Linked DNA regions of Homo sapiens: region 2 is linked to region 1. Evidence: fine-mapped expression QTL. A gene starts in region 1. The other region holds a variant in brackets. All regions are shown on one strand. Distances are between the middles of the regions.

Region 1 (4,000 bases):
TCAGGAAAGGATTCAAGAATCCACCACCACATATTGAATCATATAGGAGCCGAGCACTTTATGAGTATGCTTTTTGTTTGTTTTTGAGACAAGGTCTTGCTGTGTTGCCCAGGCTGGAGTGCAGTGGCACAATCATGGCTCACTGCAGCCTCGACCTCCTGGGCTCAGGCAGTCCTCCCACCTCAGCCTCCCTAGTAGCTGGGACTGCAGGTGCACACCACCACACCTGGTAAAAACAAAACCAAACACAACTATAGAGACATGTCTCTGTTGCCCAGACTAGTCTCAAACTCCTGGGCTCAAGTGATCCTCCCGCCACAGACTCCCAAAGTGTTGAGATTACAGGCATAAGCCACTGCGCTAGGGCTTATGTGTGTACTTAATTTAACCCTCATCCTTTAAGGTAGATATTAGTACCCCTATTTTTTAAAAAAATTATTTATTTATTTTTAAGGCAGAGTCTCGCTCTGTCGCCCAAGCTGGAGTGCAGTGGTACGATCTCAGCTCACTGCAACCTCCGCCTCCCAGGTTCAAGCGATTCTCTGCCTCAGCCTCCTGAGTTGCTGGGATTACAGTCATGCGCTACCACACTCAGCTAAGTTTTTATATTTTTGGTAGAGCCGGCGTTTCACCCATGTTGACCAGGCTGGTCTGAAACTTCTGACCTCAAGTGATCCGGCTGCCTCGGCCTCCCCAAGTGCTGGGATTACAGGCGCGAGCCACCCCGCCTGGCTAGTACCCCTATTTTTGTAATGAAGAAGCTGAGGTACAAAGAGGTTAAACAACCTGCTCAAAATTACGAAGTAGAAGCCTGAGGTGGGGTATGGTAATTTGTGATTCTACATTTATCCACCATATTAAGTCAACTGTGTTAAATCATGTTGAAGGAAGATGATGCGCTGTGATCTGTAATATTGGTGCAGTTCAGCATTACCGTGGTGCAGTGTCAAGTTCCAAAAGACACAAAACTGTCTGATCGGCCTGTAGCGCATCACCGCCCACCAGCAGTACCTGAAGACGCTTTCAGTCCCCTGCTAGTGCCGTACGGAGTCCGGGCTGGTCCATTTACATTGAAAACAAACTGATCCTAGCATCTAAGTCACCCAGACATCTTTTAGGCGGCAAGCTTTTCAGACAGTTTAACACATTTATTCTTGTTTTTTCAAAAAGAGCAAACACGTGGCGTTACAAAGGTCCTCCGTTTCGCACGCACCGGTGTCCCGGCAGCGCGCTGCGCGTCGGGAGGCCCAGTCTGTCGTCCCGTGGGGCCGGGGGTCAGGAGGTCGGGCAGGCGGGATTTGGGGTTTCGCGTGTTCCGGACCGGACACTTCGCCATCTTAACGAGCTACCGCCCGGGTTAAGGGGCACCCAGGGCAGGTGCCCGGCCGGGGGTGGGGTGTCCGAGCCGCCGGTGCCTGGACGTGGACCCCTGCAGGAAGGGTCCGCGCGGGAAGCGAGCTCTCCACGAGTCCATGACAGCAGGCCCGCGGGGGCAGGGAGCCTGCGCCAGGCAGTCTTTCTAGATCCTGGCCCAGCCTGGCCGCTTTCGCGCCCGTGCTCCTTTTCGGGGATCCTAGAGCGACGCGCAGAGCGGACCAAGGGTTCCCCCAGCGCGTTCTCGCCGCCTGGCAGCTCGCTGGCCACGCCCCTCCGCTTCCACCCTGCCACCGGCCCCCGCCGCCGCAAATGTCGCGAGACCTTCGTCCATCCTCCCGGCGTGGTCCCGCTGCCCACGGCGTCCAGAGCGCGCACGCAAGCCCCGGGAGCGCGGGACAGACAGGGCACGCTGGGTCGGCGGAGCTGAGGCTCCCAGCTGTGGGCCTCGCTGGCCCGGTCGCCCAGTCTCGCGAGAGTTGGGAGTAAACAGCCCCGAATGGAGTGCCCAGGCGTGTTCGCCGCGGAGGCGCCGTTATCCCGGGCCCGCCGGCCCTGAGCTCCCGGCGGCGCAGGTACGTCAGCCGCCCGCGCGCGGCCTCCCCGACCCGCTCCGCCTAGCGGCGGCGGCCCGCTCGCTCAGGTGTGCCGGTTGCGTCCGAGGCCCCGAGGCGAGGGCTGCGGGGGCCGGGCCGGGTCGGGGGAGGTGGGCGCGGGGCCTCCGGCGCTTGTTTGGACACAGCGTGCCTGTACCGCGGCCCTGCGGGGGTCTGCGCGCTCCGGCAGCTTGTTCCGTTGCCTGGTTTTCTTTACGTGAAATGAGCATTCACCGAGTGAAACAATACGCCCTGCTCTGGCCCGGAGCCTCCAGACAGACTCAATTCTAGGTGCGCTTCCGGGGCAGTGCTGGCGTCAGGTTTAAAAGACGTCGATTCTTTGCCTTATCTCGGTCTGTGCATATTGCGCTGCTGGTTTTTGGAAATGCGGGGATTCTGTTCGGCGAACTCTCAGAACCAGATTGCCTTTTAAACCTGTAGCTTCTTAAAAATCTTGCCTCGCCTTGGCATGGTTGCGCTACCTAAGACCGTTGTGGATCGTCAGTATTTTTATTAAGATGTTTACCTTTCATATTGGGTTGAGCCCCTGAGAATCTTGGCCTATTTGTCTACACAAATTAAGTTATTAGATTCTGATTGACACTTCGAAATTACGTGGAGTGGAATACGACCTGCGTTGAATTCTGGAGACTCATCCTTTAGTCTGAACTGTGTAGGTAAGCCCTCCTAACGTCAAGGTCTCCAATTGTATGTCTACGAAAAGGAGGGCTTGCAGAAGAGAAGTAATTCCTCTCATTTTTTTTTTTTTCAATCTGGAGAATCCGCTTTTATTATTTATACTTATTTTTTAATGTAAGAGCTTCATTGAAGTAGAATTTACATACCATAAAATCCACCTGTTTTAAGTGTACTATTCAGTGGTTTTTAGTAAATTTACAGCAGCACAGCCACTACCAAATCCACTTTTAGAACATTTCCGTTACCCCAAGACCTCTGATGCCCAGTTGTAGTCAATGCCCATTTCCAGGCCCCGCCACAGGCAACCTTTCATCTACTTTGTCTTTCTAGATTTGCCTTTAATGACTATTTCGTATATTCAGATGGAAACATATGATATGCGGCCTTTTGTGTCAGGCTTCTTTCACTTAGCATGTTTTCACAGTTCATCCATGTTGTAGCATGAATCAGGATTTCATTCCTTTTATGACCAAATAATATTCAGTTGTATGGCTATACCACATTTTGTTTAAGCATTTATGCAGAACACTTTTGACAAATAAAAGTTTATTTTATGCTCTAATGTGTGATGCGGATGACAGCAAAACTGTTGATTGAGAATGGGAGCTGGGACCTGACCCAGACACGTGTCAAACGACTGCACTCCCCAGGCACCCCGTATAATCAAGAGTTGGTCCTTTCTATATAAAAAGGGAAAATTCCAATGCAGAGCTTGCGGAACCTTTGAAGCACCTAGGGAAGAAGTGGGAGCTCTTCTAGTCAGGAGGTTAACAAGAACTAGGAAGGCTGGGCCGGGCGCGGTGGCTCACGCCTGTAATCCCACAATTTGGGAGGCCGAGGCGGGCGGATCACAAGGTCAGGTGTTCAAGACCAGCCTGGCCAACGTGGTGAAATCCCGTCTCTACTGAAAATACAAAAATTAGCTGGGCGCAATGGCAGGCGCCTGTAATCCCAGCTACTCGGGAGGCTGAGGCAGGAGAATCCCTTGAACCCAGGCGGCAGAGGTTGTAGTGAGCCAAGATCACGCCGCTGCATTCCAGCCTGGGCGACAGAGTGAGACTATGTCTCAAAAAACAAAAAACAAAAAAAAACTTGGAAGACTGAAGGCTAAGGTGAACTGTACATTGCTGCCATCAGTGCTGCGGAATTCTGCTTGAGGAAACGCTTTATTTATTTTTATTTTTTTGAGACAGAGTCTCGCTCTGTCGCCCAGGCTGGAGTGCAGTGGTGGATCTCGGCTCACTGCAACTTCTGCCTCCCGGGTTCAAGCGATTCTCCTGCCTCAGCCTCCCGAGTAGCCGGGACTGCAGGTGCCCGCCACCACACCCGGC
Region 2 (4,000 bases), 59 kb after region 1:
GTTCTGGAGGCCCATTTGGGAGACCCAAAACCTCGGCCTCTACCAGCCTGTCCACGCTTGTCTTGGGCCAAGCCACAGCCTTTAAACGAGACGGCGCCCAGGTTAGTGTCCGCCTGTGCCCTTCCACTCTTTCCACGGGGCTTGTGAGTCATTGCTTTTCTTATAGGAGAGAATGGAATTTTACTGACATCACTATCGAATTGTCAGATCTTCAAGCTTGTCATTTGCGACAGTTATTTAGTGAACCTCGTATTGGCCTTTGGAAATAGGCTCTTTGGTGGTATCCTGCATAAAAAGTGCTTTGGATAATTAGCATTTTGTTACATTTGGTTAATTCTTTTTTAAAAAGCTGGGATCCAACAGAGTGATTTCATGGGAGCTGGAGCTCTAAGTCCTGTGGTTGGGGAGTTAAGAGCTGCCGGCTGCAGTGTGTTCCCTGTTTCAGACATTGATGATAAGATACAGATAGTTCCCTTCTTCTGTCATCCCCGGGGGCCGCGGTTGCAGCCTGTCCAAGAAGAGCATGCTTCTGTGTCATTACGTCCTGTGCTGACTGTGACTGGGGGTGAAAGCACCCGCCTCCGATGGCAGGCTGTGACCTCTGCTGCTGTCTCCACACTCCTGTTTGCAGTGCCGCCTGGATCCCTTCTCCAGCTCACTAACTCGGCTTCTTCATTTGCATCGTTTCCTTTCCGTACCCAGTGTTTGAGGTGGACCTGCTGTTTCCCTCTGTGGCTAGGACCAGCTCGGCATGGCTGGTCCCCTTTTTCTCCAGATGCCACCCCCTTACTTTTTCTGTGACGTCCCTGGCCCAAACAGGACAATATAAGAAGAAAGGGGGAGCTTCTCCTGAGAAAGGGGATGAAGCCAGGGACAGCTGTCAGAGCTGTGTCCGTGGCCGGGCAGGCACACCTCCCACCCCATCAAGCAGGAGTCTTGCCCTCCGAGGCCCCCTGGCCGCCTGGTACCCGGCCCCTCTCCCCAGCCCCTCAGGCAGGAGGCTACCCTCTTGACAGGCCCCCTGCCTGCCTTCTTTTCCTCCAGTGATGGTATGGGGCCAGGGACGGAGGCCACCTTCCGTCCTGTAAGGCGAAGAGGAGAGTGCCCGTGTGAAGGTGGCGAGGCTGCCTTCCGCCTTTACTCCTCATCATAAACCGAAAGTGCTGAACACACCACGCACTGACCGTATGTCTTCATTTCGAATATGCTTAATAGAACACAGGAAAATGGTAGAATCATCACATTGTCTCATCAGTAGCTTTCTTCCTGAACCTTAATCACTGGGTACTTTTCCATTCCAGTTCACATCTCATCATTTAAACATTTCTGATAAGTTTCCATTTTTGCATCTTATTTATTTATAACCTTCTATTAGCCTAGCATTCAAACCAGCATTTATATTCCAGCCATGGTCAGCAATTCATACTCAGTGAACAGTGTTAGCTGAATTTCCAGAAACCCAATTATTCTCCACAGTGTTGTTCAGGACTTGAAGCAGATAACAATATCCTTTCTATCCTTGGCTATCTACCTGTTCACATCAAATAATCCATCACATACTGAACCGGCCCATCCAGCATGTTGATAATGGACAGCTCCTGGAATTTGATTTTCACAATCACTCAGTAATTCCTTCTTCTCAGTACGCTGCTGGGTTTTACATTTATCTTGCTTTTCATATCTTGTTGAAAATTATTCTCGGTCCCCAGAGACCTAGATCGACGCATATTCTGAGTCTCCAAAAGAGATTTGAGACCAGGAGACAGCTCCAGATGCTGTCAGCCCAGTGCTGGGGGCAGGCTTCCATCTGTGAAGTGGAGAGGCGCTTTGGGCTTCTTCGTTGGCATCAGGTGCCCATACCTAGGGCAGCTGTGGAAGTGTCAGCGTCCTCCCTGAGAGGAAC[T/C]CCTGCTCCGGTGGCTCCTCAGTCCTTCCGTCAGTATGCTGTAAAGCACCCACATGGTAATGGGTGTGGACTGTTACCATGACTGCTCCACTAGAAAGTGCCATCACCAAAGAATGAGATTCTGGAACAGGATATCACTGTTAGAATGGAAATATAGCCCATAGATATTCAGCTACAAAGTCATAAAGCCTAAATGTCATTGATTCCGTAACTTAACACTGTCAGTTTAACTTTCAGACTGATTAAGCCTGAAGTGTAAAATTAAATCCTATAAAATAGGGCGGGTTATAATGAGTGCTCATTGGCATTCAGGCAGTTGCCGAGCTGGGAGTATCGAGTGGGAGTCTCTCTCTTGCCTGCCTAGGGAACCTCTACTCAGACCAGCCCTTGCCCGCCAGCTTGGCGTTGACTTTCAGCCTAATTGCTGATAGGACTGGACGTCTTTGCTTTCACTTGCCCAAAGTGAAAGAGACAGGCTGACAGTTTCCAAATGAATAAATAACAGAAAAATAGAGAAATTTTAATTTGCAAACTTACTGTATTCTTCCCCCTCACTTAAGCCAGAGTAGTGTTTTTCCCATCGCGCTCTTCGCTCTAGCTCCGGTGTCCTCCCAAGCTCTGTGCTGCTGTTGCCAGCGTATCAACCTCTCTGTCTTCTTCGGGTCTAAGTTGTATTGGCCTGAACGAGTTTTTCAGATCCCAGAGTTAATAATGATACTGTGCACCACAGAGTGCAGGAATCGCACACGTTCATTTGATCGTCCCCCGCCTGCAGGCAAGGCAGATGGGGACCCCACGTTTTGCTGCTCAGACTCTCTCCCACTGTTGGTTCCTTGTATGTTTCGTATTCTCCCTGGAGACAGTGGTTTCTTCAGAGACAAAGATGCTGTCTGGTTCCCGGCACCAGTTTGCCCACTTCCTTATATGCAGTGGTTCTGGAATCACCATTGCCTCCGACTGCTCCAGGCCTTAGGGAGAGGACCTCGATAGCCCCAGGCTCAGGTCCACTCAGCAGGCTTCAGCTCCTCCCCCTGACAGGCTCCTTCCAGGGCCTCGCTTGGAGTGTCCTCCCGAGGCGCTTGGTCATGTTTAGCTTTATGCAAAAACAGGCTCCTGCTGGTCATATTGTAAACTCAGTAGAATCTCATGAACAGGGACTTGATTTTGATCTTTCTCCCTCGGGACGTGGAAACGGCCACCATAGTTGCTGTCAGTGGCATTTAGGTGGCCGTGGACGCAAATGGCATTTCACATCTCCCCGTAGATCACTTGCTCTGTCTTGAGTTTCAGTTGAACTTCCTAGACTAGTACCTAGACTAGTACAATGGCTTATTTTTGTTTTGTTTTAATCCATTTTCCTGAAGTAACCTTTGGAAACATCAGAAGCTACTCTCCATTGACCTGGACAAGGTGGTGTTACCCAACTTTCGATCGAATCGCCCTCAAGTGAGGCCCTTGTCCCCTGGAGAGAGCGGCGCCTGGGACATTCCTGGAGGTGAGTTCTCGGCTGCTTTGTGATTGTGCTCAGTCATCCTGTATTTTGTTCAAAGGAGTCTCCCTCCCTCCCCAGGAGGCGGGCCAGACTCTCCCTGTCTCTGCCTTCCTGGGAGCTGTGGTGGCCTTGGCTCTTGGCTTCTTTTGTGGCACAAACCAGCATGAGCAAGGGCAGGCCTGACAGATTAAGAGATTGTTGTTTCCCTTAGAAAATGCTACCTAGATTTTCACATTTGAATTTATTTTACAACGGCTGGGTGATCTACTTAAACATGTTCAAAGTAACTTGCACGCTCTTTATGAAAGTTCTGCCAGCCACCTATTAACGTCCCTTACAGGATGCCTGTCTGCTGGTTTGGGTCCCAGCCAATGGCAGCAGCCGCCCTGGCTCCCAGCCCTCAGCCCAGAAGGCCCCTTCAGTTCTCTGCCCTGCCCCCCTGGGAGGGACTTGACTGAGCTGGGGTGTGTCCCTTAGGTGGTCTCATCCTGTCTGTCTCTCCAGGGATCCTGACTGGCTACATAGACTGCCTAGGGCAGGTTCTTCTCCACTACCCAAGGCAATTGGTACCAGGCCTTTCCAGCCGAGCCTGGGCAGTTCTTTTG

The links. PIP is the estimated chance that this variant, and not a neighbour inherited with it, causes the effect.
Region 2: its variant is fine-mapped to the expression of MBTPS1 in tibial nerve (GTEx, PIP above 0.99).

Annotation. Positions count from the first base shown.
Region 1 is chr16:84,114,684-84,118,683 of GRCh38, reverse strand. MBTPS1 (membrane bound transcription factor peptidase, site 1) reads left to right here and starts at 1,742. Exons shown (of 23, transcript NM_003791.4): 1 at 1,742-1,949. MBTPS1-DT (MBTPS1 divergent transcript) reads right to left here and starts at 1,641. Exons shown (of 1, transcript NR_186375.1): 1 at 1-1,641. RefSeq lists an enhancer at 1,012-1,171 and silencers at 1,322-1,421, 1,822-2,251.
Region 2 is chr16:84,055,403-84,059,402 of GRCh38, reverse strand. It overlaps MBTPS1 (membrane bound transcription factor peptidase, site 1), which reads left to right. Exons shown (of 23, transcript NM_003791.4): 21 at 1-101; 22 at 3,268-3,398. Among named protein-coding and RNA genes, the nearest start is that of SLC38A8, 15 kb to the right of the region's middle. RefSeq lists enhancers at 2,977-3,569, 3,570-4,000. The variant T/C (reference allele first, on the strand shown) is at 1,904.